Linked DNA regions of Homo sapiens: region 2 is linked to region 1. Evidence: fine-mapped expression QTL. A gene starts in region 1. The other region holds a variant in brackets. All regions are shown on one strand. Distances are between the middles of the regions. Region 1 holds the start of DPH5-DT (DPH5 divergent transcript). Region 2 overlaps DPH5-DT (DPH5 divergent transcript).

Region 1 (16,601 bases):
ACACATATTTATTAGTGAATCTATTAAGGCCCCTTTAAAGGAAGTATCTTATTCACAAATGGATTTACTCAACTACAAGTATAGATTCCACATTTAAATATTGCTGTGGTGGGAGAAAGAAATATTTTTGTCTTCAAAAATAAATAAATTGACTTTGAAGAGGTTTTAATTAATACTGACTTTAAAAGCACTTTCGTCCAATACAAAAAGTGATATTGATTTTATTCATACTGAATAAAGAAAATAACTGAAAAATTAAATAACTGAAAATTTAAAATAACTGAAAAAAATTACATATGAGGCAATTGACACCACCACAGAGCTGCAAATTAAAACCACAACGATATCTCACTACACACCCACTAAAATTAAAAGGTATCACAATACCAAGTGTTGACAAGGATACAGAGCAACTGTAACTTGCATCTATTGCTGGTGGGAATGTAAATTGTACAAACACTTTGGAAAACTGTTTAGCACAATTTGTTAAAGTGAAAACATATATCCTATAACCCAGCAATTCCAATTCCTAGGTAATATAACCCAACAGAAATGAATACTTAAATGTCTAACAAAAGACAGATACAACAATGTTCATAGCAGATTTATTCATATTGGCCCCAAACTGAAACATCCATCAAAAATAAAGAAGATGAATAGTAGTACATTCATATAACAGAATTCTATTCAGCAAAGAATGAACTACTACTACACAGAACATGGATGAGTAAAGCAGAGCCAAGGAAGCCAGACGCGAAAGGGTACATTTTACATGATTCCGTGTATAAGAATAGCCAAAACTAACTTACAGTCAAATAGTGGTTCGGTTACCTTGGAGAGGTGGGGCGGAGGCGGGGGGGCATTTACTGGGAGAGGATAAAAGGGAACCCTCTGGGATGCCAGAAATGTTCCACATCTTTATCAGAATGATGGGTACATGGTTATACACATACGTAAAAATTGTATACTTAAAATTTGGTGGACTTTGCTTTATGTAATCTATATCCCATTTCTGTGAGATTCATCCAGGTTGTTTCATGTAGCAGTAATTCATTCTTTTTGATTGCTGTATAGCATTGTATTATATGAATGTATCACATAACACAATGATTCTTTTTATTGTTGTTGGGCATCTAAAAAGCTTTTTTAAAAAAAGAATTCAGTTCCCAAATGAACATTTTCTCTGCTCACTAGCAGATTTTGTTTACTAAACTACTAAGAAGCAAAGTCCATTCACTTTTTTTTTTGAGACAGGGTTTCACTCTGTCACCCAGGTTAGAGTGCGGTGATGTGATCATAGCTCATTGCAGCCTCAAATTCCTGGGCTCAAGCAATCCTCCTGCCTCAGCCTCCTGAGCAGCTGGGACTACAGGTGCATGCCACCATGCCCAGCTAACTTTTTTATTTTTATTTTTAGTAGAGACGAAATCTTGGTATGTTGGCCAGGCTGGTCTCAAACTCCTGGGCTCAAGTGATTCTCCCTCCTCAGCCTCTGAAAGTGCTAGGATTATACAGCTGTAAACCACCACATTTGGCTCCATTTCCTTTAAGTTCTACTTTAAGTTTTAACAAATTGCCAGACAACATTTCTTTGGTGCCAACCAAGTCTATAGTGTTGAACTCAATGACAGAATAATTGAAATGAAGAGCTTCTCTCAGAAAGAATACCTCAGAGAATAATATTAAAATAATAATGCTTGCTTAAGATGACTTTTGTCAATCAGTAAACTATTTAGTGGATTGGTCTATAATTACTGAATTATGTAAATGATTCATATAACTTTTGTGAATGGGGAAAAGAATAAGAACCAATCTAGGTGGACTTGACTTTCATATTATAATCTGACAGACACTGTAGATAATTCTAAAATTAATTTCAAACTCTATATCAATATTTGTCAATGTTTTCTGAGTCTTTACTAGTTGTCTGAAAGTATGCTAAACCCTTTATATGTATTTTTTCATTTATCCTCACAATAATCCCATGAAAGATGTTACTATTATCTCTATTTTATAGAATAGGTAACTGAGGTTTAAAAAGGGAATGCAAGGAATACACTACTGAGTGAAAGGCCTAGACTAAACACGGTCTGAATGACATCAAAATGTGAGTTCTCAATCATTATAAAAAATCCCCTCTGTTCAGTTCTTCTCCTCCAGAAATTTATTTATAACTTATTACCATGTGTAGATGTATACTCATTCATTCAATATATATTTACTGAGCATCAAACACTGTTCTAGCTGTTTGTTTCACATTAGAGCATAACACAGACAAAAAAATCCTGCCTTTGTGGTGCTTATACTCTAATAGGATGTGGACAAAAAACATCATAATAAATAAGTAAACTAGACAGTTGTGTTACAAAGTGAGCAATGCTACAGGGGCAAATAAGCGGATAAAGTGATTAGAAATGTTGGTTGTAGTTTACATAAAATAGCCCTCACTGAGGAAGTGAATTCTGAACAATGACTTCAAGGAAGTGGAGCCAGAGCCACACAGCTATCTGTAGGGGCCAGGGGTACGGAGACGAGGAGGTGAGGCTGGAGAACTAGGGGAGTGGTGTAGATAGTGGGGGTATGTGTGTGTGGCTAATATACAGCCTGGTAGTTCGCTTTTATGAATTTTGGCTTTTGAATGAAAGGGAAACCACTCCCCTTCTCCCACCAAATCTTGGCTAGTTTAGCTATGTTTCCCTAAAAAACCTTAAAGGGACACTGTAAGTTTTTGTTTTTGTTTTTGTTTTTTATTTGAGACGGAGTCTCGCTTTGTTGCCCAGGCTGGAGTGCAGTGGCACGATCTTGGCTCACTGCAAGCTCCGCCTCCCAGGTTCAGGCCATTCTCCTGCCTCAGCCTCCCAAGTAGCTGGGACTACAGGTGCCCGCCACCACGCCCGGCTAATTTTTTTGTATTTTTAGTAGAGACGGGGTTTCACCGTGTTAGCCAGGATGGTCTGGATCTCCTGACCTCGTGATCCACCCGCCTCAGCCTCCCAAAGTGCTGGGATTACAGGCGTAAGCCACCGTGCCTGGCCTGTAGTTTTTTTAAATGCAAAAAGAGTGAATTATGTATCCCTGATTCTACCTTTTTAGCAATAGACTTTGGAGGAAGGACCTGCCATATACGAAAATGGGTTAGAAACAAACAGAAAGTTTACACATACATGCACATACACACAGGCACTTAAGGGAACATTCTGGGAGCTCCTTTACACAAAAACGCAGGGCTCTAGGTGACTTCTTTACGACAGTCCATATTGTTACTGATTCAATCTATTAAGCTAGGATGAATGACAATAAAAATTTCCACACTTTACACAGAAAATAGCTCTAGATTTGTTTTTTATGCATTTTTACATCATATGATTAACATATAATGTATGGATGAGTACTTAAAATCACTGGGTTTATAAAAAGTGACTTTTTCTCTAAGTAAACAAGTGTACAATAAAGTAACTTCAAATCTTTTAACCTTAGTAAATACAGGTCCTTATCCTAAAGCAATGTTATCTTTAATTATCACTTATTTGTGAATTGTTAGAAAATAATGACTTCAATCAATTAAGAGTCTGAGCTCTACAAATATTAACCAAGATTTCCTCTAACAAAGGCAATTTCTGGGAACATGTAGGTTAAAAGGCCAGCTTCATAGTAAAATAATATTCTTCATTCACAGTAAGGTCAGATGGAGTTTAGTCAGTCACCCTGATGTCTTCTTTTCAATACACAAACTGCTTAAACAGGACAATTGAAGGATGACTTCTCTTAAATGTAAGGTAATTATAATTTGTCCGTAAGGTAATGCAGTGACTCAACTATGTTATTACTTCAGAATAAAAGTAGCATATGATGTGTCTATGACAATGAAATGGAAAAGCCATCAGTATTAATTTCTTATGACTATCTGCATCTCTCTCACATTTTATGACTACTGACTGTAGGTCTCAAATATAAGGAAGAATTTGCCAGTAAAAATGAGTTACTGGCAAAGGTTATAAAAACATCTTAAAGATCCTTCATAAAAGCATAAATGTTCACCCTCAGGGATGACTTGGCATCATCTGACCTGAAAGCAAGAATACAAAGTAGAAAACTCTTCAGGTCTAATCTATCCATGTTATTCTTGAAGCCAAAAAAGGCTAAAAATCTTTCTTTTTTTCTTTTGTCCTATAATCACCTTTCTCTTTAACCATCACTCTCTCTTCTGCTAGACATGAGACTACAAATTTGCTGACATAAAAGAATTTGTCCTCTAACTGCTTTCATTATCATTATAAAACTATAATATTTGTTAAAAACTAATTTGAAATCGTTTTACAGCAAAATTTTCAAAATCCAGCCTAAATTAGGTGAAGCAATGATATCATTTAATCAGCTATATGCCTAGGTATGTTTTGTTAATCTATTACCTAGGTGAGGAGTTTATGTTTCAAGCAAAATGTAATATGTGTATTGATGGCTGCAACTTCCCTGGAAATGCATCAACAAATAAGATGGGTTGACATCTGGGTAAAAGGATAAATAAGTGATAAAGCAAAAACAGCAAAATGTTAAAACTTTAGAACCTTGGAGGTGGCTATATGGGTGTTGACTGTGACACTGTTTCAACTTTTCTATATGTTTGAAATTTTTCACAATAAATTGTTGGGGAAAATGTAATCACATTTGAAACCTGTTTTAAATGGCAAGGGAAAAATGTCCAAATCCCACAGAATTCTGCAAAATCCAATAGGCAAGATTTTTGCAGCTTATGTTTGTTGAGCTGAGGAGGAAAAACAAAAAAGATTACCATAATCCCTTTATCTGTCTACCTCCAGAAAAGTACAAAAAATTTACACTCTTATTGAGAAATAACGGCAGGTGAAAGGTTTGTTTGTTAAGAATTCTCCGTGGTAAAACTAAGTTCCTCTGGCTACATTTTGAAGCTTAAAAACAAATTATTACTGTTATTTCAGGCAATGTTTCACTTCCTTGATTACCCAGAATAACTTTATTTTCAATATAGATATATTTCCTGAAAGGAGATAAACCACACCTTCTTCAGATTACTTAATCATCCTTTTTGGCAGTGTCCTTGCACTGTGAATCTACCTGAAATTATTATTTTTTTAAATCTGAAAACAAAAAACATAAATGATCAACACATTGGAAAATGTGTTTACCTACTCAATAGCATGCATATGAACTATATGTTTTGTGTGTTGCAAGCCTTTCAATACAAATGACCTTCTAAAGTGGCATGAGACAGGCATATTTATATTTGATATTCCATTAATGATTTTTTTGGTAGTTTTTTAAAACATACCACCCTCTGTATTAATAAAGATGGAAAAATACGTAGCTCAGCTACTAGTGGATAATAATGATTTATTCAACAAACATTTATTTAATACCTATTATGTGCAAGGGATAGTGCTAAACCTAAGATGAGCATACAAATAAGATGCAGTCCCTGAATTAACTAAATCAATAGTTTGGTAAAGAAGAAATACAAATGAACAAATATAAAATCTCATAAATTGGTTAGTAAGTATATGTAGAGTAATACTGTAATGAAGAGGAGAAACCTAAATTAGCTTAGGGGGGTGAGGGTCTCTGGGAAGGCTTCCTGAACTTGGTCTTAAAGAATGGGTATTAGTGATCTAGGCAGGAGAGAATGGGAGACAATATTCTATGATGAGGCAGCAGCGTAGAGGAACAAAGCAGCATGTTGTGGGCAGAGAACTACAAGCAATTCAGTATTGCTGGAGAGAAAGCGAGAAAGCTCATGGTATGGAGTGGAGAGAGATGATGCTAAAAAGGTAGGCAGTGGCCACACCACGAATGATCTTGTGGGGTATGTTAACAAACCTGGACTTTCTCTTGGCCTCAGAAGGATCTAGAAGGGGTGTAATATTTTCAGATTGTTAACTATAACTCTCTGACCCCCTTGAGTGAAGGAGACATTATTATCAGCTACAAGAGTGACAAAATGAGGACCTGAGAATCAAGATGGTGATAGACGGTATGGTTTCTATTGAGATATACAGGCAGACATGACAGACGATGTGGGGGTGACTCCCAAGTGTCTGGCTGGGGTTAATCTGTTGATGACAATACTCTCCTCACCCACCCCCACCCCCGACCCATCCAAGTAGATAATATGGAAAGAAAAGCAAAATGGAAAGGGAAGGTGATGGATTCAACCTTGGATGTGTTGAATATGCTTCCGGGTTATCTAGGTGAAGATTTCCAGCAGAACGTTAACATGAAGCCAAGAGGGAGGAAGTCTGGATAGGAGGCTGAAATTTGAATCTACAAAATATTAGCGATACTAGGAATTCTGAGTGAACAGCCAGTTTTTGTGAGGTTTTGTTTGTTTTACTTAAGCCATTCTAATAGGTGGGTTGTGGTAGCTCATTGTGATTTAAATGTTTATTTTCCTAATGTCTAATGATGTTTAGGATCTTTTTTTGTTTGTTTAAGATCTTTTAAAATAATTATTTGCTATTTGTGTATCTTCTTTGGTGTCTATTCAAATCTTTTGCCCATTTTTAAACAACGAACTGTTTTATTATTGCTTTCTGAGTGCTCCTTATATATTCTCCATACAAGTCCTTCATCAGATACATGCTTTGTAAATATTTTCAGTATGTGGCTTCAAGTCTTTTGAAGAGCATAAATTTTTACTTTGTTGAAGTCCAATTTATCAATTTTTTTCATCACGCTTTTGGTTTAAGAAATATTTGCCTAAATAAGGTCACGAATATTTCCTCCTATGTTTTCTTCTGGTATAGGTTTAGGTTTTCCATTTACATCTACGATCCATTTTGAGTTTTTTGGGGTGTGTATGTGGTGTGAGGAATAGATCAACGTAATGAGAGGGGATAAAACACAGCCACGAAGAGTTTATAGATAGGAAGTGCAAAAAGGTGGATGGAACCTGGGAATGAAAAAAAGCCAAGGTTCAAGGAAGCGGAGTTGGGCATTGTCGGGGAGGCAACAGGAAAATTCTGAGTAACCAACACTGCCTGCTAAGAAAAGCAATGACAGCTGTCTTTTTTAACTTGGATGAGGTCACCTTGGGAAGAGCATTTTCAGTCAAAACAAATCTTCCCTATTTCTAATTACATGTAACCAACAGCTTTATAAGAATTCCCCCGGCAGAAACACTTGAGAGGTCTGAAATCCCTGAGCACTATTAAAGGTCACTTCTTTAGGTACAGGAAGGTCTGGGATTCCTGACACTGAGGGTGACTGAAACATCCTTGGGGCACTCCAGGCATAAGGTCTTGGGGACAAACCCAAGGAGTCATTGCCTTGTTGGGAAATCAGAAGCACACTCACTGCTGGGTTTGCCAATCTCACGCTTCACCAGGAAGACACCTAGTTGAACTACAGGAGGATGAGAAGACTGGAATTAAAATCTGTGCACTCGGCCAAATCCGGGGACAAATCAGGAAAATCCTTCCCAGCCCTCCCTGTTTCTGGAGAGGAGGAGTAGGGCGCAGGGCCCCTCCCGACTCTCTTCCACGTGGCTCCTCTCGAGCGAAGAGCTACTGCACTTACCCAGGCTTAGGAAGCGGGTGTTTAAGCCATGGGTTAGAGGGCTCGTGAGCACGCCCGATCCTTTCCCTGAGGCTATGAAACGGTGGCTCCACGGACTCCTCTCGGCCGACTGACCTTTCGCCGCCCTGCCCCAGCAGCCGGCGGGTTTCTTCAGTGGAGCCGGGCTCTGGTCTCCGCAGCCCAGTAGCCCGCTAGCCCGGCCCCCTCCCGCTAGTCGTAAAGTGCAGTAAAGGCACCAGCATTTTGCGGCACCGTAGGTGAGGCCGGCGGCGTGGGCCTTTTCTCTGCACGGAGCCGGCGCTTTTGCAGTTGCTTCTGCGGAAAGGTGGTAGTTAAGAATTTGTAAAGGCCAGAGAACTACCTACGATTCTCTCAGCGGGTAATTGGCTGCTCCTAGGTTTGTGTAACAAGAGGCAAAACTGGTAGGGTTGTTTAAAACCTCTTATCCCAGTTCTTAAGCGTGACATAAGGTTCCCAAACCCCTCCTTGTGACTTGCCTCTTCTCTTGTGCTACTTTGGTTGTCATCGTGTTCATCACTAGATTTTAGATGTCCTCGGTGTTACTGACGGTTTTTCTGTCCACTTCGTCTTGCAGTCTCTCTTCTCCTCAAGTTTGAAATGCTTTATCTCATCGGGTTGGGCCTGGGAGATGCCAAGGACATCACAGTCAAGGGCCTGGAAGTTGTTAGACGCTGCAGTCGAGTGTATCTGGAAGCCTACACCTCAGTCCTAACTGTAGGGAAGGAAGCCTTGGTAGGTGCTGAGCGTTCCCCAGCCTCCTGGGAAGAAAGCTATCTAACATCTGATTTTCATACACTAAGCTGAACAGAATTTTCAGGTCTGCTTGTTTAAACCCTTTGAAACGCATCCCTTGTTCATTAATGATCTGAGGAGCAGAAGAATGGAAATTTTACACCAACCAAGTGACTTGGAAAATGAAAGGGTGCTTTGTCCTATTTTACAAGTCTAATTTTGTGGCTTTCTCCAGTAAATAGGAAAGCTATTTTATACTCCTGGGGGATAGTTATCAAAACCCCTTATTTCATGAGGTAGTCAAGAAACCCTTTCTGAGTTGAGTGCTAATGAGGAGCTGACACAGCCTTAATGAGTTGGTTATATATATTCAAAAACCAAGCTGAAAGCTTCCCCCTTTGAAGTGTGTCCATAGGGAATGGCGATTGCCTTTTTGTATCCTATCCAGAGAGATCTTATCTTAAATAGACTATCTCCCAATAAGGCTTATACTGATACACTTGTATATATTGAGTGAGCCTGGACTTAATATATAAAAATGTATGAGTATACACTTACATGAGTATACACTAAGTAACCAAAGTATTTGTTAGTATATTATACATTTATAGTTGGCCCTCATAAGGGCCCAGTAAATTTGGGGGAAGGGTCAACTTCAGGTTCATTGTCAAACTCTAAGTAGAATGTAAATCAAAGGATTAATACATATGTTATGGGAGGAGGGAGCAGATTTATTGTCATGTCTTCCAAACAAAAAATAGACTTAAAATTTTTAGGCCTCAGATTACTTTAAAATCTTATAGAAGGAATTAAGAACTGCTACTTGAATTGGCCATGCATTTAAATAAAAGTTGTGTGTAAAGACCAACTTTGATATATACATATATGTGGAGAGAGAGAGAAAATAAGTCTTGCTCTGTTGCCCAGGCTGGGGTGCAATGGTATGATCATGGCTCACTGCAGCCTCAGCCTCCTGGGCTCAAGTATCCTCCCACCTCAACCTCTCGAGTAGCTGAGACTACAGGTGGGTGCCATCATGCCCAGCTAATTTTTTGTATTTTTTGTAGAGACAGGGTTTTGCCACATTGCCCAGGCTGGTCACAAGTTCCTGGACTCTAGTGATCTGCCCACCTCGGCCTCCTAAAGTGCTGGGATTGTATAGGCACAAGCAACCACACCCAGCCTAAGGCCAGCTTTGATTTAAAAAACATTTTTTTTTCTCATTTTTTCACTCTTAGGATAGAACCAAAATATCTAAGCTCGAAATGATGGAAATGTGCGTCTCTAATCAGTGATTAAGGAAAAGTAAAAGGAACTTAACACCTTCAAGAAAAGACAGACAAATAACAAAACAGCAGTTTGATAGAATGAGATATCAGGGGATGGCATAGAGGAAAGTTTGGTTATAGTTTTATCTTTGTTACATGTTAATGTGACCTTGGACAAGTCCTTTAACTTTAGTGTCTTTTTTAAATGGGGTAAAAAACATCTACTTTAGGTGTTCAGCATAATTCTTAGCATAGGTTCTTAACTATGGTATATGGCACAAAACTGTTCAGAAATAGAAATTGTCAATGTTCACATTTCCAAACTTCTCTGAACCTCAGTTTCTTCATTTGTCAAGTGGCAATTACCAGTTGGAGGGTTATGTAGTGTTTTATTGAGATGATGTATATGAAAGTGCTTTGTAAATTTTCAGTGCTAGCTAAATGTTAATTTTGGCTGCTGTTATTTTGTAAAGTATTTTTTTCCAAAGACAAAACTTCTGGAGTTACTACTTACAGAGTCAAGACCTGAAGCTGGACCCAGCCTTACCTACAGTAAATTATGTGTACTTTGTTAAGGTGCTGGAATATCTGTTTCTTCACAGTAATAAGTACTGACATTTATAGAACAGTTACAGAACAGTTACTGTGCACTGTTTTAAATGCTTTACATGTAGATTAGGATTATTATTCTAATTACTGTTCATTTTGCAGGGATAGAGAAGTTAACAAACTTGCCTAAGTTCATGCAGATAGTGAATGATAGAGCCAGGAGATGAACCAAAGCAGTCCTGAGTTGAAGTCTGCCACTCTTTTTATTATTATTATTATTTATTATGTTTTTTTATTTTGAGACGGAGTCTTGCTATGTTGCCTAGGCTGGAATGCAGTGGTGCGATCTCGGCCCCCTGCAACCTCTGCCTCTCGGGTTCAAGCAATTCTTCTGTCACAGCCTTCTGAGTAGCTGGGATTACAGGCGTGTGCCATTGCGCCCGGCTAATTTTTGTATTTTTAGTAGGATGAGATTTCACCATGTTGGCCAGGCTGGTCTCGAACTCCTGACCTCAGGTGATCCACCTGCCTCGGCCTCCAAAGTGCTGTGATTACAGGTGAGAGCCACTGCGCCCGGCCGAGGTCTACCACTCTTGACCTCTACACTGTACTGTGTCTCTGTATTCTTAAGGATAGATAATAGCTACACAAAGTTTAACTTCACAGAACACCTACAGAGAAGGTAGGATTCAAGCAAAATGGTCAATGCTGGATCCTGCCCTGCTTAATAATTTGTTCATGTACTCATTTGTTTGACAGATATTATTGAGTACCAGATACCGTTGCACTACAGCAATCCTTATAAATTTTAATAACTCACTCAAAGTTCTCAGTATGTAAGAAACCGTATTATTTATCTATGCATCCAGTTTTACTCCATTTGAATTACTTATTACTTCTCAGGAAATCAGTTTTAAGATTCATGATCCTTCATTCTGTACTGGCTGACGAGATGAAAAAAAAGAAAAGGATTCATGATCTTGCATAATAGCCCGTAACCACTATCAGATGACTACTAGCTTACTAGCTCACTCTCTACTGGATTTGTTCTCTAGAGTTGAGCTGCAGGGAATTAAATCACAAAGCAGTTTGTTTGCAAACTTCCTACATATTTAGAATTCAGTTACTGCTCCTGCAACTCTGCCTTTTTAGCAGAAACTAAGGAATATAGTTTTAAATTAGTATCTTCTGCATTTATGTAGGAATGTTCACTGGTTCTGTAAACAGCTAATTTTCTATTGTTTCTCATTGGTGCTGCCTTTTTTTTCTAGCTGAGTTGCCATATGTTTAACCATTGAAAATTTAATAAAAGCTAAACCACCATGTTTGTTTAAACTTATTGTTTAATATATTTATTCTGTATTACATCATGTTTCTGAAGTAGGGCTCATGTGTACATATTCCGCATTCATCCTACAGTGTTCTATTTGGCCTTTAGAACCAAATTTAGAAATAAATTTAAAATGCAAAAAGCCTCAGATGTTAAGAGTTCCGCCTCCTTTGGGATATTAAGACAGCCCCAAATACAGAGTTTAATTGCAACATGACATAAAGTACTGGCTTACTGATGAGTTGTATTGAATGATCTGCATTTGGGTGGTTGCCAACATATGCACCAGTCCCAAACAAAGAGTGTGTGTGTGTGTGTGTGTGTGTGTGTGTGTGTGTGTGTGTTAGAATGGTCACCTGCTGTCTCTTTATCTTGATATTGGACTTATATCTGTAGGAAGAGTTTTATGGAAGAAAATTGGTTGTTGCTGATAGAGAAGAAGTGGAACAAGAAGCAGATAATATTTTAAAGGATGCTGATATCAGTGATGTTGCATTCCTTGTGGTTGGTGATCCATTTGGGTAAGTCAAGGCAGATATTTTGAGTTTTTAACTCATTTACTTTTTTTTAATCAGTAAGAATTATTCTATTGCATTTAACACTTTTACCTGCCAGGTCCTGATAAGGAACTCTGGTTACTTAAGCGCTATCTAAAATGTCATAGTTTAAACTTTCATGATCTTTGAGATTAGTGAAGAAAAGCTAGTTGGTAAATATATCATCATATGTATCACTACATTATCAAGTGTCAACTCTAAAGTTTGTATCATTGCTTCTGCTGTTTTAGAAGGTCATGTAGGGCAACAAATGCCTTAACTGCTATATCATTATTAAATAGTTCATTACATTATCAAAAGTCATGCCTGCCATTTTCTGCTGATAATTTCAGGCATCTTCGACTTCTTTTGTCCTAGGTTTTTTTTCCTTTTGTAATCATCTACTATTTGGCAATACTGCCGTCACTTTGCTTGCCTTGAATTTATCATTTATCAAGTCTCTGATTTCAGTTTCTTATATCCATTGGGAACCCTGTTCTTTGTCATTACCACGAAGATGGGCATCTACTGCCTAGTCAAGCATCATCAATCTCTAATGTCAAGCCAAACAGAAGAGTTCTTTGTCTACAGCTGGTTACCTAAGATTTATATCACAGATTTAAGGAACATAAGGACCATGTAAGACCTTGGAGGGGACTAGGAATTTAATTTAAATACAGTGGTAAACTTTTGCAGGATTCAAAGCAGGAAAAAGTCAAAATCTGATTAGCATTAAAAGGTCACTTTAAGTGCTTAGGTAAATGGATTTTAGGGAGGCAAGAACGTTTTTGGTGGAAAAGAGAAAAAGATGGGAACATATTTAGAAGAAGAATGCCAAGATGAATGTGGTGGATAAGGAAAAGGAAAGGAGTAAATCTGATTCCCAGGATTCTAGCTTTACAAATGAGTGGTTGGTAGTGTCACTTGAAAACTGGTAGAGAACAGGATTTGGAGAAACAAGAATTGGTTCTGGAAATATGTTTACTTTGAGATGTCAAGTAGGCAGTTAGCTGCTGCTAGAGCTTGGGATGGGAGGTCATCCTAGATAAATGGCTTTTGAAGTCATCAGTATGTTTATGGTGTTTAAAGCTGGAGGAATGGATAGAATCAGCTTAGGAGAGAAGAGTGGGAAAAGAGGACCTAGGATGGCCCTAGGAAACCTTGGAATTTCATCGTGTACCTGGAGCCAGAGGAGGAGGGAGAAAAAGCAAGAGAGTATGTTGTCACAGAAGCCAGGAAAAGAGACTATTCAAAAAGGAAAGACTGAATACCTTCAATATAATACTGAAAGTTTGACTGTAAGATGAGGACAGAAATATGTGTATGAATTTAAAGACATGATGTTTGGAGTTGATTAGTGGTGGTTTTATGGAGGAGCTGGAACTTGCGCTGGGTCTGGATAGGGTTCAACAGATGGAGATTATAGGGTGGGCCAGGAGAAAGGTAGAAGGAAGAATGCTCATATAAATGAAAAAACTGAGGCACAGAGAAAGTACCTTGATGTAATTAATTGCTCCCATGCTCAAAAACCTTCAGTGACTTCTCATGGCCTTAAATCTTGAAGTCTTTCTTTTTTCTCTAGCTACTCTTTAACCGCTATGCTAAAACCAAATGGTACAACTTTCCATTTCATAAGTGTTTTGTAATATTCTTCCCCTATTTCTTTGCTCAAGCTTTTTCCTTAAAAGAGTTCTTCTCAGTTCCTAATTATACCTAATTGTACTATAAAATTAGTATACAGCTCAGATGCTACCTCTTTCATTCCTGTTTTATTCCGGAGTGCCTTTTTTTTTTCCATTTTAGACTTCTTTAATTTGCCCTTTCTTAGTGATTCATCGTATATAGCCTTGTATTTGAATTCAGATTTAAGGAATATTTACTGTACTGCAGTTATTTTTTATTTACCGGCAGATTATAGTTAGGATATGATAGTTGGAAATGGCATGATGGGGAATGTGTAATTTTAATTGGAATATGAGTGGATTAAATGGAGGAGAAATCAGGTAAGGAATATAGAATGCAGCAAGGCACTGAAATTCTTAGATATGAGCAAAAAATATCCCTTATTTAATTTTAAGACCCCTTCTTATTTAAATAAAATATATAAAAAGAAGATTGTTTAAGATGCTGAATCTTAAATTCTTTTTTTCAGTACTTTTAAAATGGTAAAATGACACATGACAAAATGTGTCATTTTAACCATTTTAGTGTACAGTTCAGTGGCATACTAAGTACATTCACATTGTTGTGCAACTATCAGCACTGTCCATCTCCAGCAATATGAAGTTCTTGAAGACAATTTAAAGTCATAGTTAAGTAAGTTCATGTAGTCTCATCTTTGTTCTTTTACCCAGGTTATTGAAAGGAATATGGAAATAGATCACACAAAGAAAGTAAATGAGTCTAAAAATATATACTAAATCAATAGAACTTAATCACTGTGAGAGTTGACAGTCTCAAACATTCTATCCCTAAATCTCTGCATAAGAAGTCTTTATTAAACACACTGTTTCTAATGATGGTTCTGTTTTATTATTCCATTCTGTATTTCAATATGCTCTGTAACTATATTATTATAATGAATACAAAATTTTTATCCCTATGTTGTATGCCTTTTCCTTAGTGGCATCCATATACAGATAATATGTCCTGATGTAGGCTGACTGCTTCCATTCCATGTAATGAATGTGAACAGTGCTTGATACCTAATAACTATAAAATCAATGGCAGCATTATTATTAGTCTATTTTTCTTCAATATAAATAAAGCTGTCACATGTAAATTTATGTATATGATACCTTCCTGCCTCCCACTTCTTTATCCCCATGTTTTAGGTTGTTTCCTTATGGTAGATCCTCCAAAATAGGTTTTTAGGAATAAAATATCAAAAGGTGTGGACATGGACATTTTGTAGAATAAAGCATATTGTCAATTATTTTTCAAAAGGATAGTGCCAAGTGTTAGTGCTTCCATAGTTCATGAAAACGTCATTTGCGCTATATCATTGCAAACATTACTAAATTTCTGGCCCACCAGCCACACTTATGTCAAAAACGGAGACACTATAAAATTTAAAACAAACATACCAGCCGGCGCAGTGGCTCATGCTTGTAATCCCAGCAACTTTGGGAGGCTGAGGCGGGTGGATTGCCCGAGCCCAGGAGTTTGAAACCAGCCTGGGCAATGTGGCGAAACCCCATCTCTACTAAAAATACAAAAAAGTAGCCAGACGTGGTGGCAGGCACCTGTAATCCCAGCTACTCAGGAGGCTGAGGCAGGAGAATTGATTGAACCCGGGAGGCGGAGGTTGCATGAGCCAAGATCGTGCCACTGCACTCCAGCCTGGGCAATGGAGCAAGACTCTGTCTCAAAAAAAAAAAAAAAAAATCAAATTTTGTATATTCAAATTGGTCACCTTTGTGTACTTTATTTTATTGATTCCATTAATCAAAACATTTTTGGATCTCCTTTCTTGAAATTGCCTTTAGAACAATTTCAAGTAACAAGCATGTTATTACAGACAGATTTATTACTATTTCTGAGCATACATACATATACACATATATGATTTTAGATAGAGCCATATACCTAGAAATAGTAAATTTGTTTGTGTGTATATGTATGTGTCTACTCATTTTAAATAAACTTGTGATAGAGATGTAATTTTGAGCCAGTTTTTCATTTGCTTAAATAACTCACCAAGTAACTAATTTAGTTTTCTTTACTCTTAATGTTAAGTAGTGAGATTCTGTTGAAGGTGATATTAAAAACAATTCTTTATAATTGACATTCATGTTATTTTTTAAAAGCTTATTTGAAATCAAATTAATGATTATTTTTCATACCAGTTTTATTTTATGTATGTGATTAAAAACAGGCTTCCCTGGTGGGCATTTGTTAATTTGTTAATATATATCTGACTGCTCCATGGGGTGAAAGCCCTTTATCTTCCTACTTGGTATGCATTGACCAGTCCACAGGTTCTACTTGTTTGCATGTGGTTTCTCAGACATGCTAATGTTGCTTTACCCAGTAGGGCCTGGAATTTTTATCAGGAGGGAAAAAGGCCTTTAAAATGAAGTTCTAAATTGATAAGCGGTTACATTTCACTGTGTCCATGTTTATATTTATCTATAGTCTCTCTTTACTCCAATCTACCTACTTACAATCTTGAGATTTTATCTTAAAAATGGAAAGGCAACAGGTCAAATATGCACACATACGTACATACGCATACACACATCCTAATTACACACAGTAACCAAATAAAAACAGTTAAAATGACTGCTGGACAGATATAAAATCCAATATTATAGGAGATAGGACTCTCATATAAAGACTGAGTGACAAGCTGTGAAAATTTATGTACAGGCATACCTCGTTTTATTGTGTTTTGCTTTATTTCATTTCACATACATTGCATTTTTTAAAAATTGAAGGTTTGTGGCAACTTTGCATTGAGCAATCCTATTGGTGCCATTTTTTTCTGACAGCATGTTCTCACTTCCTGTCTCTGTGTTACATTTTGGTAATTATTGTGATATTTCAAGCTTTTTCATTATTACATCTGTTAATGATGATTTGTGATCAGTGATCTTTGATGTTACTGTTGTACTT
Region 2 (16,601 bases), 48 kb before region 1:
AATATTTGAGGAAAAAAAAAAAAGAAAAAAAGAGCTTAGTGGAGAAGCAAGTCACTGGGAAAGGGAAAAAGCTTAAAAGTCACGCATATTTAAAGAAAACTAATGTTTTGTCATTGTTTCAGCCACATCTGAGTACATTAGAATTTAACGTACTTAAAAAAATTTTTAAAGGCAAAACATACAACAGTTGGGAGACAAAGTGGTTGTAACCCACTTCCTCCACACCCTCTTGATACTTAACATTGATACTTTGTGTGGTCTTTGGCTTATGCAGTATCCTGTCTCATTATGACTGGACTATTAAGAATCAAGTAACTGTCCCTGGGCGTGGTGGCGGGTGCCTGCAGTTCCAGCTACTCGGGAGGCTGGGGCTGGAGAATCCCTTGAGCTCAGGGGCTCGAATCTAGTCTGGACAACATAGTGAGACCCCCCGTCTCTAGAAAACAAACAAACAACAACCAAAAACACCCAAACACAAACACACAAAAGAATCCAGAATCAAATAATGGTCATCAACAATACAATATCCAACGGTAGTTCCTTTTTTTTTTTAAACGCACAGAACAACCTTTTGAAGGTGCCAAATTTAAAGATGGTAAAGTAACAGAGAAGTAAACTGTAACCTAATTGCTATGGCTTCAGAATAACCCAGTCAAAAGACTTTCAACATGAAAGGAAAGGAATTTAAATTAGTTGCCCTTGAGTTCAATATTTAAAGGTTCTGTATTTTTTTTCCTACTTTAGCAAGGGAACAAATATAGTCCTAGATTGGTCCAGGGGTGTATCTCCCCTTCTCAAAGTAATTTGCAGGTTGGACTACAAAGGAGATATAGTAACCCAATGAAAACAGTAGAAGCAAGACAGGTTCTTGGCATCTGCTTATGCTGCCGCCTGTATTTCTGCCCATGTTGGCTCAGGCCAAACAGTGCAGCATCCAGTGGACGGCTGAGGGACCTGTGTCCTCCACACTTCGCTCACCAGCAGGGAGTCATTATTACTCCTTCACATTGGGTACTTTTGAAGCACTTGATAGAAGCTCTTCTTAATGGAAATACTGAGGATTAAAGAACAATTCTGAGACTCAATCATTCTGAAGGGAAAAAAACACAATTGTCTAAGTCAGGGGAAACCATCTCTGACAGATGTTCTGCTAAAAGAGAAGACAGCTCCTCTTTTCTACATGATTCTCGAGGGCTAAAGGCTGCAGAGAGATACTGCTAATTAATTCCTCCATGTTTTCATGAAGGAAATATTTATCAAACATATCTAGAGCCATATTTTATAAGTAGTGTTTAGTTACTGTGTGTATATTCTAAGCATTTTATTATATAATAATATATACTGTGGAAGTAATAGTATTTACCTCACTGGGTTGTGGAGAGTATCTAACTCAGTGAGTTGTGAGATAATAAACATAAAGTGCTCATAAGCCATAATCCTGGTGCACTGCAATTGCTCAGTAGATGGTCATTCATGTTATTGGTGTTATGGAAGCTGCTAATGTAAAGCTTTATTTCTGGGTCCAGAAAGAAGTTGCCTTTACTGGAGATATCAAAGGCTAAATAGTAACACTGACGTTTAACAGGATCTGGAAAAAAAGAGAAATTTTTGACTCAAAGGGATTTATAAGGTTTCGAACCACCCTAAAACTTAAGATTTCTGGTATGCTGTGGAATTCCTGAAGTTTGTGAGAGACTTGCACTTTCAGGAATTTAGGCTTTGATGTTGAATTAGGAAATTTGAATCCTGGCTCCATTACTTATTCTTTGTATACTTTAGCTCTCTTATGTGTAAAATGAGGCTAATAATTCTACCTACACGTCAGAGTTTTTGAGAGAACAATATATGTAAATACTTAAAACAGTGCTTGGTACTTAGCTAGACATATCTCAAATCACTACCATCATGATCACCAAATGGCAGAATTGACAAATGGGATTTGTGTCTTGCTGCCTCAGATTATCTTTGATTTTCCATACTCTTTGATGTCTAAAATAATTTTGATTCCTATTATTCTATAGCTAAATATTCTAACATGAGGCAATTACTACCCTTTCTGTTTCTAAATTGGAAGGATATCTTACAACACAATATTGCAAGGAAAATAACCACACATTGGTAGGTTCAAAGAAAAGAAGAGGAGAAACCATTAGGAAATGAAGGCACCTTGTCCATCTTAGGGGATGCTCACTCCTATCCTTCATTTTGCTTCTATCAGCTCTCAGTTTTCCCTCCTTCTCCATTGCGCCTCCAGTCTTAGTCTACATGACATTTAAGCCAAAAGTCATTCATAACATTTGTTTGTTTGTTTGTTTGTTCTTGAGAGACTCCTGGTGGCTTAGTTTGCCCTCTAATAGATTGCTATGGTAACACTTGTTTCCGTTTGTCTACCACTCTCCCTGCATCCTCTTAACTCCAAATTCTGATTTAAAAAAAAAAAAAAAGGAACCACCTGTTTCCTGAGCACAGAATTAGATTATTGAATCAAGCTGGCTTACACAGATCCTTCGAATTTGAGTCTTAAGTGGAGGTGCCTTGGGGTGCTCTGGGTCAAAGAGTTCATGAGTTCTCAATGCTCGAGTCCTCAGAATTGTCCTGGTTTCTAACCTCCTGAAGCTTGCTTGTTCAGTGATACCTTTCTGTGAGCTACTCTAATAATTCTCGTGTTTAAGATGGTCTCTGTTGCATACGCACCTTTCTGCTTTTTGCAACCAAAAAAGAAAAAAAACCTATGTGGCTGTGTGGCTGAGTTCCCTTGGGGGAATTTAATCAGCCATCAGCTTTGGTCAACTAGGGGCTTACACAAGACAAATTAATCTGGAGGAGATGTTAAGGGTGGTAAGTAATTTGATATATCCATAACAGGGGAAAATGGTAGTTATAAGAAAAGAATCAGACTTGTGTCTACATCTACTACAGTCTTAGCAGAATATAACAAACCCCATTTAATTAAATTCCATTTAAGTCAATAGGCATTACAATTAGGCATTCACTAGATAAGCACTTGGGGGATATTTAGACGGATAAGGCTAAAATTTTGCTCTCAAGTAATGGCTAGTCTGGGGGAAGACTACATGTACACATATAAGTATAATACAAGGCAAAATATGCTGACTACTGTGATAAGATCAAATAAAAACACTTTGGGAGGCCGAAGCGGGCGGATCACGAGGTTAGGAGATTGAGACCATCCTGGCTAACACGGTGAAACCCCGTCTCTACTAAAAATACAAAAAATTAGCCAGGCGTGGTGGCGGGCGCCTGTAGTCCCAGCTACTCGGGAGGCTGAGGCAGGAGAATGGCGTGAACCCGGGAGGCGGAGCTTGCAGTGAGCCGAGATGGTGCCACTGCACTCCAGCCTGGGCAACAGAGCGAGACTCTGTCTCAAAAAAATAAATAAATAAATAAATAAATAAATAAATAAATAAATAAAAACATAGAGGAAAGAACAATTAATTTGGGTTATAGCATTAGCCAAACAGGTCAGCCTGCTGAAAGATTCAAATAGCATGTTGCAAGCCACCAATACAAAGGAGAGAAGAAGCCCTTTTAAAGAGCTGTGGCATTTTGAGATCTTGAGTAACATACAAATGGAAAAAGACTCCTCAGGTTTGTAGGCACTTGAGAAATATTGCTTTCTCACTTCTTACCTCATTTAAGTACAGGTCTAAGTAAAGGTCTGTAGAGGCAAAAATCCTTTCTTACCAATAAGTGAGTCCTTCCCTAACCCTAGTCTTGGGCTGGTAGGAAGTATCCCTATTCAGTGTCCCATTTCCTCACCAAGAGTGTTTTCCATTCCTGAGTTAGTTCAACAAGGGTAAAATCTGGATTAATGGCCCCCACGTCTTTGAAGTCAAGAAATGTACATTATTTTTTCCCAGATCTTAAATCTGGTGACTCAGCACAAATTCTAGCCTTGCATGTATCCCTCAACCAGACCGAGTATCCATTGCATGAACAATGACCCACGGACACCAGTGTAACCCCTGCCTCCTCACCTCCTGCACTGGCCCTGCAGAACTGAGATTCTGCCTTTTACGTAGCCTTTTTGCCTGAGAACAAGTTAGCCTAATTCTTGGCAGTCTTCTCTCTGGTTATGGCAGTGGAGTCTCTACCATGTGTTTTAAACCCTAGTTCAACAAGCAATTCTGTTAGAACCCGACTAATATCCTCCTTACAATGGAGCAGGTGTTGGCAAACTTCTTTAAAGAGCCAGATAGTGTATATTCTAGGCTTTGAGGGCCAGAAGGTTTCTGTCACAAGTATTCTGGCATTTTAAGTCCTAAAGCAGCCATAGACCACATTTAAATGAATGGGTGGAGCAGTAGTCTAATAAAACTTCACTTATAAAAAGAGGCAATGATTTGGCCCTTGAGTATAGTTTGAAGACCCCCTGCTTTTCAGCATCACTGTTCATGCATTCAGAATTCCTTATTCCCATGACCCATCTGTTTGCGAGAAAGCTCACCTTAATCTTTCCCAATCCTCCTTTATTTGCAAAGGTGTAGGCTTGCCCATCTCAGTTACAATATTCAAGACGTCCATGTACCTTACTTCAGTTCCTGGTATACTCCAGAGCCCACATGAACATTTATGCATACCCTATCATTCCATCTAGAGCCAAAGTAAAAAAAGAGAAGCGAGAAGTAGTGGTATGTATATAGTTATTAGCAGTTTGAGGGAAAAGAAAACAAAACAAAACCAAACAAAAACAGAAAATAGCCTAAAAGAAGTAACTGTTGCTTCTGGAACAAGAGAAAAGGAGAAAAGTTATAAGACAACAATCTGTTATATTCTGCAGGGAGCAGAGATACCTTGGCCAAAAGTAAAGAAAATTGTTTGGGTAACTCTCTAGACAATGGGAAGAAAACTGAGGCTCATAAAAGTTAAATGAGAGTTCCACATAGGCCTGTTAAGGAATTCCTGCTAATTATATTCATCTTGAAGCAAAGGTAGAAGATGTATCGCAATATCCCAAATTGGAAATCTAAATATATTTTCTGAATAAAGTTGTTAAATAGAGCGATTTTTTAAAATGTAGTAGTAGGTTTAATAGGAATCTGTAAGTGGCACAAAACACAATAATAACTGCTATTTAGTTAAGTGACAGTGTAGTGGACATTTTTTTCTGATTTTACCATCTAACATTCACTCCCCTTTCTTTTGGTAACACTATCAACAATTTTCTTTGGACAACCGTGCTTCCTGTGCCTTCGGTCCCCCTGCTTTGGATTGAGCTGAAACTATCCGATTTCAGGGACAGGCATGTGATCTAGGTTTGGATAATCAAAATATTGAACCCCCCTGGATCTACAGTTGTTTTAGGAACAGAAACATGCAAGTTTGTCTCATCAAAGTGAGGCCAAGACTTCTATAGGTATTTCAGGGAGAGTTGCTCTTTTTTATGTTATATTAGAAAATGGCAAGATGTAAGTTTAGAGTTGCTAAAGGATGACATTAGGAAATAACTCCTTTGACAGTTAAAGCAAGTATTAAGAAAAATAGGCTGTAGAAATGCAGATACCAAGTCCTGAGAATACTGTTTGAACCCTTAATATTTTAGTAATGAGTTAATTTTTTTAGCCAATTTTCTTTTATAATTCCTTTCCTCCTTCCATTATTCTTTCCTTCCATCCCTCCCTTCTTTCCTTCCCTTTTATCCCTGCAACTGAGAGTTGTAAAAGAAAGTAAAATAATACAGCTTATTTTATGTAAGTATATATAGCTTTCCTTTAACTCACAAAACAATCCTATGGGTGGGTATAATTACTCGGTCAACTGAGGAATTGCATAGTATGCCGCTGGTCATGCTATGCATAGTATGCAATTCCTCAGTTGACTTCAAAGTTATGATTCAACCTCAGGCCAGTATGACTCAAAGCAGGTGATCCTCACTATACCTCCTGCCCTCAGGTAAAAAGTCTTCTAAGGGAACTAAGCTTTTAGGTCTCAACAATTCAAATCTGCTTCTAATTTAGGGGCCATCTCTATACTAGGGGCCTAATGTGATGATAATAGATCAACTTTGGCCAGTGATGTGAAAATAAATGTACTTTTGAAAATGCAGTGACTCCTTGACAGGTGCCCTTTAGAATACTGGTGAATGGCTGTTGTAGAAAAGTCATTTCTGAAAGCTATTTTTATGAGGCAAACTGCATTTTCCACTTTTATCCCACACCTAATGTCAGGGATATGTTCTAAGAGAATACTTTTATTCTCATTCATTCTGCAACAAACATTTAGAGATATTTAGAGCTTACCAGGCATTGGAGAAATGTACTGGGCTGCCTAGAACAACAATTTGGACCAACGTTTGCATGTTCCCATCCCAGAAACACTTGTAGGTCCAGGGTGGTTCAATATTTTGATTGTCCAAACCTGGATCATCTACCTATCCCTGGAATCAGGGATGGTTTCAGTTCAATCCGAAGGACAGGAAGGCCATCTTAGATTGATAAGCCATCTTATGTTCCCAGTATCTGTCTGAAATAATTATATCCTGAGAGCTCTCGTAGTGTGAAGCTTTCTTCTAC[A/G]TGTAAAATTTCACAGGGAACCATGTTTTTCAAACAAAGGCATAAGAACCTGAAAGACAGTACAGAATAGTGATTAACAGGGCTGGCACTGGAGTTCAAGTCTCATCTCTTCTCAGCTGCATGACCTTGAGAGAGTTATTTAACGTCTCTGCGCTTCATTTTCCTTGTCTGTAAAAAAGGAATGATAATAATAGTACCGTTATTGTTAGTTGCCCATCCTCCCCTAAGTTTCTCAACTAAATGAACTACTGACTTGCTATCTAGTTTTTAATTTGAATATTAATAGATTATATTCACTTATATTGTGAATAAGTGAACGTTTCACTTATTTCTCTTATCTCTGTCACAATCTTTTACACACACACATGCAAATATGCTACATAAATTAGCTCTAAAAATGAGCAACTTGTAATACATGCCCAGCACTGTAATGTAAGTGAAATGATATTTTATTAGGGAGCAACCAATGATTTTTATCATATAAAATAAACAAGGAAATTTATCAAGATAGTTTTCATCATAAAATATATTTTTAAATATCTTTCTTCCCAAATTTTCTATTAAATTTGACCTAGCCATATGACTTACATAAATTATATTAGCAAAACTGAAGCCAATTATCTGAAATCATTTAAAGTATGGCTATTTCAGAACAATAATATGAGTATCATTTAAACAATGTTATAGTGTGTACACACATATCTGTCTTTCTATGTACCTTAGGGGTGGGAGGACAGACTGAGGCAATAGGAAAATCTCTCAAGTTAGTTTAGAAGTCAGAGAAATTTCCCTTTACCCTTTTCATCAGAATAAATTAGAACAGATCATTGGAATCTGTTTCAAACAAATAACAACTTTCCTAGTGTTTTTGGAATGCAAAGACTAAAATGTCTAAATTGTCACACAGAAAACCATACAACTCAGATTCCTAACACAGTTTTATGAATGAAGAGCTGAATCACTTTGTTATGTACAAAGGACTAGATAAATGCCACAGAAATGCTATAATCCTGGGGATTAATTCTTTTATTACTATTTAACTAAGTTGTCCTAGTGATTTACCAGTTCAAATGTGATATTAAATGCTATATTGTATGTTGCTCCATACTTGATTTTAAATGAATCAAATGCTTAATTACAGTATTTGGAATTTTTTGTTATTTTTAAAGGATTTTTAAAGTTTTTATGTACTTGATAGTAAGCTGAACACTTACGTTAGCTTCAGTTACACGATTGTAAGATTTTTTATTGTACAATTATTCTTTTAGAATTGAAATTTATACCAACTTTTGCATGTCTCCTTCCCTTAAACAATTGTAGGTCCAGGGAAGGAGGGTTCAATATTTTTATTGTCCAAACCTAGATCACATACACACCCCTGAAATCAGAGTACAGACAGCTGATGTTCAGTGTAGACAGCTGTCTAAACAATAAGAACTCTATGTATCAGGACAGGTGCTGTTATTATCCTCCAAATCTACAATACAAGTGTTGATTTATAAAAGATTTGGAGGGATAAGGCTTAAACATTAAAACAACAAGCAAATATCCCAGTAAAACAAAGCTGCAAATTTCAATCTATTCCTTACACAAGAGTCAACTATTCAATGAAAAATTTCAAGAAAAGTATAGGGGTTTTCCACTGCTTTGAAAGTATTTTGATAACACATAATAATATCCAACTTTGGAAATTTATCACAGCTATCTAAGAAGCTCAAGGTACCACTTCAAAGAATTATCAAGAATCACCTAGCATATTTCCAAAACCTGAAAAATCAACTTAGTTTACAAATTGTTAGACTATGAGTTTCTTCAAGACATGGACCACCTTTCTCCTCATGGTTTGCTGCTACCTTGCACAAATTAGGCACTGAGTATATGAAGGAGCATGGCAGACTGAAGTCCTACACCTACCAGAAGAAAGGCCACACACCCTTGTAGTCACATAGCTCCATCCTATTGGCCAAAAATCAATGGCCAGATGATCAAAAGCAGTGGTTCCCAACTGGGGATGATTTTACCCCCCAGGGATATTTGGCAATGTCTAGAGTCATTTTTGGATGTCAGAGATGTGCAGGGATGCTGTCATCTAGTAGGTAGAGGCCAGGGATACTGCCAAACATCCTACAGCACACAGGACAGCCCGCACAACAAAGAATTATCTGGCTGGAAATGTCAGCAGAGCTGAGGTTCAGAAACGCTGATCTAAGAGTTAATTGAATATTTGGCTGGGCACAGTGGCTTACGCCCGTAATCCCAGCACTTTGGTAGGCCAAGGCAGGTGGATCACTTGAGGTTAGCAGTTTGAGACCAGACTGGCCAACATGGTAAAACCCCATCTCTATTAAAAATACAAAAATTAGCTAGGCATGGTGGTACATGCCTGTAGTCCCACCTACTCAGGATGCTGAGGCATGAGAATCACTTGAACACAGGAGGCAGAGGTTGCAGTGAGCCGAGATCATGCCACTGCACTCCAGCCTGGGCGACAGAGTGGGACTCCATCTCAAAAATAAATAAATAAATAAAATAAAATAAAAATAAAATAAAAGTTAATTGAATATTCATGACGGCATCAGACAGTCATCCATAGCGGAACACGCTAAAATATACCTTGTTTAAGTTAAAAAAATTTCATTGCAAGATTCAGTACTCATCTTCCAAAACAGAAAAGCTGCTGGAATGAAAATGTGGAAGTAGAATGAAAAGCCTTCCATTTTCTCTCAACGAACACAATTTTTCATACATCTTCATGTTTATCACCACATGTGATATATTCAGGAACTGTGGAAGAACAGAAGTGATAATGATATGCTGATACATAAGGAGTCTCATGTCACCTAGAAAGTAGACTGACATTTGTTAATGAGACATTTAAAGAGGTCAAATATGGAAGGGCTAGATTTGTATTCAATATCTGGCATAAGAACAGTGAAACAGGAAAGGTAAAGGTAATAATGGTAAAGCAGGTAGTTAACATCTTTTATGTCCTCTCAGTCTGCCAGATACAATGCTACAACACCTTATGTGTATACTCATTTAAATGGTAAGATCTATCAATCTCAGAAGTTAAGTGTTTCAGAAAGAATATGATTTGATCATTTCTATAAAAATTGTACTATAACTTCCATTTTACAAGTCTCACTCCTCCACTAGACTGGGACCTTCTGGAACCTGCCCTCCAGAAGGTCCCAGTCTAGTGGAGTGGGACTCGTAAAACAGACTGAAAAAGTAGAAGTCCTAATGATGTCTTATTTATCATTAGGACTCATTCATCATTAGGACTCGTACTATACCACCAAATAGGCTTTTCATTAGAGATTAAGAGAATAAGAGTAACACTGTGCAACAAAACAAAAATCTAGGGGAAACCATCTAAAGTCCTCCAAATTCTAAGGAGAAGAGAGGTTATCATAAGTCTAGTCTGTGAGTTCTTCCATGAGCAAGATACTTCATTATCTCTGTATTCACAGTTACTAGTGAAGAGTCTAACACAGAGTAGACACTTAATAAGAATATTTTAAATTGAACTTGAGACTGTAAATATTTTCAAGTGTTTCCAAGAAAGGGAAATGTGATCCTCTCCTTTACATGGATCTTGACTCAGCAAATACAGTTACTTCTTTTTCTCATGTGTACTTGTTTACAACTCTTATGTGGTTCCTGCCATTTACTGTTCAGCTCTGATAACAACAATGAATGGCACTCAGACAAGGTCAAAGGGAGGCAACATTTTGCTTGAGCGATTTCTTCATTCAGCTATATATGTCAGTGTGGATGCAGAGTGGGTTACATAAGTAATGACAAATACTCCTTTCTTAATTCTAACACAGAGATCTACAGCTGCCCCATTAGATTGCTGCCTTATCTGGGGAGCTATCCTGTGGTGCTGCAGTGGATACTGTGGAAAAAGGAGGAAGCAAAGAAGTGGAAACAAGACAGATGTGCCAAGGCAGAAACTACACTCTAATTTTGAGTATATTATTTAGATACCACCATCAATCTATCCTCCTGATGTTTTATCAACGAAGACAAGACTTACATCTCTTCCCTTTTTTAGCCACTCAAAAAAGATCTCACTAAACTTCAAACTCAAGCATATTGGCATAATAACAGCAACTATTAAGAATTTGCTTCCTATTTTTTGACTTAGAAAAGATGTTTTCTTCATTATCTCCATGAACTAATATTTATGAAGTACTCTCATGTATTGTACATGCATATCTATCATATACTACTCTGAGAAAGTTAGAGAAGTTCCTGCCCTGTGGGGGTTTTTGTGTGTATTGTAGGGAATGAAGGAGAGTTAAAAAAAAAAAAAGGCCATATTCTCTCCCTCTCAAATGTCTTAATCAAAAATATTATAACCGGGCACAGTGGCAAGCGCCTGTAGTCCCAGCTACTTGGGAGGCTGAGGCTGGAGGATCGTTTGAGCCCAGGAGTTCAAGGCCAGCCTGGGCATCAGAGTGAGACCCTGTCTCTAAAATATTATATATACATCATATAGTCATATATATATATATATATAACTGTAACTTGACAATATCATAGATCTGACCAGACCAAATGATAAATATATACCTCAGAATATGGAGTGGGTGAGTAAACATAAAATATCACTTTCACAGTTCTTTTAACACAAATGATTTATAAATTTATTGATTCTAAGATGACAAAAAAAGTGTCCCTTAGATAAGCTCTGGTCACCTAGGGTCAGTTTCCAACAACAGATTCCTTCTCAGTATACTACCCAATGGTGAGAAGACCCCAAAGTGGACAGCCGGAGAGCTGCAACACATGCAAAACACTTGCAACCCTTCTTGTTTTCTTATTTTTCCTGTTTTCATTGGCAGAATTTTTTCCTTGCTCAAAGCAGAGCTGCAAATGAAAGCAGCTGCCCAAAGTGGAGGAAGTTCAAAGACCAGAGAAGAAAGAGAAAGGAGGTGGGGGTCAAATGAGGAAAACAACGGAAGACAACATGAAGACTATTGGCAACTCTGTCTTGTATGAAAGTCTAAAGCAGAAAACACACTTGTGGACAGATGGACTGATGGCAGCTTTCGGCAAAGCGATGTACCAATAGGCTTTCAAGTGACTTAACAACTGAGTGTTATATTTTTAAACAGACTTGAAAACTTATAACAATCCCAAAGCAAGAAATATTTCTAAATATTTTCCTCTGAACTTTTCTGATGGTCACTTTTTTTGGTTCCTGTCATATATTCATTCATGTTTCTGAATCATGCTACAGATGAAAATCTATTTAAAGTTATTGCATGAGTTTCCTTGGCTTTCACTACTTAAAGATTATCAGGAAAATACAGGTGTAGTTATTTTGGAATCTGGCTTCAATAGGTACATTTAGAAGAATTTGTATATATTTAGCATTTATTTTTTAACTACAAGGTTTAGTGCTTCATTAGATATTAAAATTTAATCTTGAAATTCTTATAAAAGGATTATAGTTAAAATATTCATTGCAATTAATTATTTTATTTTTATGCAGAAATTAAAGAAGTAAAATAAATACAACTTATGGGACATTTCAGAATACATTTTTAAAATGTTTTAAAAATATATAAATACCCTACTGTATTTTAGGATTTTTAGAAATATTTTATGCAAAATTAATTTACTTATATTTTAATGCTAACATATAAATTCTAGAATGTTGCAATTCCAAAACTGAAAAATTCACCGGAGTGCACAGATTCTGGAAGACAACTTGTTTGAATATATTTTTGCAAGTTCAAGTATCTAAACTTTTAGACAAAAACTTTTCTATTGCCCTAGCTTCTTTAAAAAATATATTTACAAGCGAGAATAACTGCAAAATGGGACCTAAAAATGTTTGCTCTATGTAGAAATTTCATAAACGTTAACTGTAGAGCGGTAAACACTTTTTACAGACTGACCGCTAACTCCAGAAGCCTTTTCTTTCAGTCAACACTTTCCCACCGTGAGAACCATTTCTCATTAACAACTAAATTGTTTTCCAATGCTGTGCTATAAGGGGTTTCCTTAGAAACCATTTGGTAAAAGACTGTGGCTTTCTTCCACAGAAATCTCAAGCAGTGAAAAGGCAGATTTTCTGGCATAAATCAAACCCAATTTCTAGGGTTCACTAAACCCTTTCTCCTCAAAATAATGTTTTGTGACTTGATCTTAGCAGTTAATAGAACACGCAGGAGAGCTGGTGTGAACCAGTTTTAAATGAATTTTATTCCATCCCTTTTGTCATTCAATTGAAATCACTTTGAGGGCTTGTTATACCTTGATAAAGGTTTAACTGCACAACTAATGGACAAGATAATACTCTTTACTATGTGGCAAAATGTATAATTTTTTTCCCACCAAATGTGCTCTGTGAATTAATCTTTGTATTATTAGGACAATGTTATCTGTTCTGATTTCAGAGTTGTTCTTGCTTATAAATATACTATTTAAAATAAGTTGTGGCAACACAAGTTTCTGTGCTAAAAACATAAATATTTCATCTGGCTAATATATATATACATCTACCAATAGCATTGTAGAAAATTTCTAGATGCAAGTAGATTCATACGAAATACACAAAAAGAAGCATGTGTACCAACAATTATGTCTCTAGTGTATATGTGACAGAGTACTTTAAATGAAAATCCAAAATTATTACTGGAATGGAATAATACATTTCCACATCTCTGTGCCTTCTGTATACATTGTTCCCTTTACAAGCAATGTGCTCCTGCCTCCTAAATTTTACTCCTGCCTTAGACATTGTTCAATCATCCCCTCATTCACTCATCCATTTATTCATTCCATACATTTTTACTGGGCACTGATTATTTGCTGGATTCTATGCTAGATGCTGGAGTGAACAAGATAATGCCCTTTCCCCATTTTCCCGTGGAGCTAATGGTCAAAAGTGATTCCTTCCCCCTTCTCTGACTTCCTCGGACAAAGATAATCATTTCATTCTTGGTCCTACCATCATTCATCCATTAAACAAGTATCTAATGAGCAACTACTATATAGTAGGCACTTGCCATATCATCTTGCAATTATTTATTTACGAATCTGTTTTGAGGAAAAAGCCTTTCTATATCTTTGTATTTTGAGGACCTAATACAATTCTGGAATATAATAAATGCAAAGTAAATGTTTATTGAATAAATAATTGAAGTAAATGAAACTATTCTAGCTAATAGACTAGATTTTCTCTTATTTGAAAATTATCAATAATATACCATAAGTTTACAAAAATATCAGCTCTGCTTCACTAAAAACTTGCACTGAACATTTTAGAGATGTGAAAGATGGAAAACCTGAGAAATAGTCAAGCTGTTCTAAGACTTTTTGACAACTAGAGCTTCTGCCATATTACCAGGCAAGTCTTTTCCAAGATTGAATTAATATGCTTATAGGATGATCCATCTAAGTTTGAAAAATAATTTAAAGTAGAAATTAGTCTTCATAACCCATTTATGCCTGAGGTTGCAATTTTTTGAATTTTTGCATAAAATTCATATATGTAACCTGCAAAAATTTAAGGAACAAGAATTTGAAGAGAAAAAGTTTTTATTGTGTTTCACATAATGTTATGTGGCAATCAAAAAATGGAACACCGGGCATAAATGGCTTGGTTAAGGCCAGTATTGTGACAATTTGGTTTGAGGGCATTTTAGTTAAGAAATGCAATCCTCACCTACAGAATGGGAGAACATTTTTGCAATCTATCCATCTGACAAACATCTAATATCCAGAGTTTACAAGCATCTTAAACAAATTTACAAGAAAAAACAATCCCGTTAAAAAGTGGGCAAAGGACATGAACAGACACTTCTCAAAAGAAGATATTCATGTGGCCAATGAACATATGAAAAACAGCTTAACATCACTGATCATTAGAGAAATGCAAATCAAAACCACAATGAGATACCATCTCATGCCAGTCAGAATGGCGATTATTAAAACGTCAAGAAACAACAGATGCTGGCGAGCATGTGGAGAAATAGGAATACTTTTACACTGCTGGTGGGAGTGTAAATTAGTTCAACCGTTGTGGAAGACAGTGTGGCAACTCCTCAAAGATCTAGAAGCAGAAATACCATTAGACCCAGCAATCCCATTACTGGGTATACACCTAAAGGAATATAAATCATTCTATTATAAAGATACATGCACACATATGTTTATTGCAGCACCATTCACAATAGCAAAGACATGGAATCAACCCAAATGCCCATCAGTGACTGATAGACTAGATACAGAAAATGTAATATTCCATGTATCCACCATGGAATATTATGCAGCCATAAAAAGGAATGAGATCACCTCCTTTGCAGGACATGGATGGAAGTATAAGCCATTATACTCAGCAAACTAATGCAGGAGCAGAAAACCAAACACTGCATATTTTCACTTATAAGTGGGAGATGAACGATGAGAACACATAGAAACATTGAAGGGAACAGCACACACTGGAGCCTGTTCAGGGGGTGGAGGGAGGGAGAGCATCAGTAAAAATAGCTAATATATGCTGGGCTTAATACCTGGGCAATGGGATGATCTGTGCAGGAAACCACCATAGCACATATTTACCTATGTAACAAACCTGCACATCCTGTATATGTACCCCAGAGCTCAAAATAAAAATTGAAGAAAAAAAATGCAACTTTCTACTTCTAAAGGCATCTCCCTGGGACTGAATGCCCAAAATATCTTCTGTAGACTGTAAACCTGACAAGATCTGCCATCCTACCCCCACCTCTCTAATCTCATTTCCTGCCACTCTCTCCCTTCTCATCCTGCTCCTACCAAACTAACCTCCTTGCTATTCCTTGAATATGCCCAGCAATTCTGCCTCAGGATATTGGCACTTGCTGTTACCTCATCTGCTCTTCCTCAGATACCTTCAAGGCTCACTCCCTCACTCCTTCAATTCCTTCAGGTCTCTGCTCAAATCACCTTTTCAGAGAGGCCTTCCTTGACACCATATCTCAAGCAGCATACCTGCCCCATCCACTGTGGATCACTCCCTAACCTTCTCAGGCTGCTTTAATTTTTCATAGCATGTATCACCATCTGACATACTATTTACTTTTGGGTTTTTTGTCTGTCTGCCCTATTAGAATTTAAATTCTAAAAGGCTAGAGATTTTTGTAAATTCTACTAGCCATTTTGTAAACTCTACAGGGCTAATATTTTGACAATATTCCTAGTGATTAGAAATGTTTCTTAAACATAGAAAGTACCCCATAAATATTTATTGAGTGAATGAATTTGATCAATTTATCTGTAACTGTATACTCAGTATGAATTGTCTCTATTGTGGTATATTAACAGCTAAGGACTAATATGGTAATAGAAACCCCCTGAACTTATACATTCAGAATTTACTTTTTTGAATATCTGATATGCCCTTTGTTACTGACTTAGAAGCCCAAATTTACTTAGTAAAACTGTAGTTTTGTCTCCCCAAATCATCTTGCCTCAAAATCATTGCATTAGAAAAGGCAGTTCTGTGAACACCAACAGATTTAAACATTTAAAAGCCTATATGAAACATATAGCCTATATGTGAACATTTAAAAGCCTATATGAAAATGGGGATGGTAGAGGGGACATGATCCTTCCCATAGATAGTTTTATTCTAGTGGAGAGCCTCAAAGTGAAAGTACTGTTTCCTCTGTAGAGAAATTCTTGTGAGAAAGTCTTAAGCATAGCTAATTAGTTCTGAGTGGAAAAAAAGCGCTCTAAGTTAGGAAACTCATTTCATTGACTATTTAAGGGAACTTTTTATAAAATCAGTTATGGAAATAAATCTGTGGTTGTAATATGTTTATTTTATTTTATTTAAATAAATAAAATTTATTTAAACATTTTGTAATATGTTTATTGATGTTTAGTTAAAGTCATCAAATGCAAGACCAATTATAAAGTTGTGAAGAAAAAGAATATCAAAAGTTTCTAAAACATTTTAATTTAAAAATATCAATTGCACAAATGTTCTAAATAAATGCTTCTACTATCCTTTTTTTTTTTTTTAAACAAAGACAGGGTCTCACTATGTTGTACAAGTTGGTA

What was found.
Region 2: its variant is fine-mapped to the expression of DPH5-DT in fibroblasts (GTEx, PIP above 0.99).

What each region holds. Positions count from the first base shown.
Region 1 is chr1:101,017,009-101,033,609 of GRCh38, reverse strand. It overlaps DPH5-DT (DPH5 divergent transcript), which reads right to left and starts at 7,764. Exons shown (of 5, transcript NR_109849.1): 1 at 7,549-7,764. DPH5 (diphthamide biosynthesis 5) reads left to right here and starts at 7,826. Exons shown (of 8, transcript NM_015958.3): 1 at 7,826-7,927; 2 at 8,144-8,301; 3 at 11,845-11,969. The coding sequence starts at 8,167. RefSeq lists a silencer at 6,044-6,103 and enhancers at 7,895-8,004, 7,097-8,296.
Region 2 is chr1:101,065,376-101,081,976 of GRCh38, reverse strand. It overlaps DPH5-DT (DPH5 divergent transcript), which reads right to left. Exons shown (of 5, transcript NR_109849.1): 2 at 6,261-6,582; 3 at 4,469-4,614. Among named protein-coding and RNA genes, the nearest start is that of DPH5-DT, 48 kb to the right of the region's middle. RefSeq lists a silencer at 233-312. The variant A/G (reference allele first, on the strand shown) is at 6,534.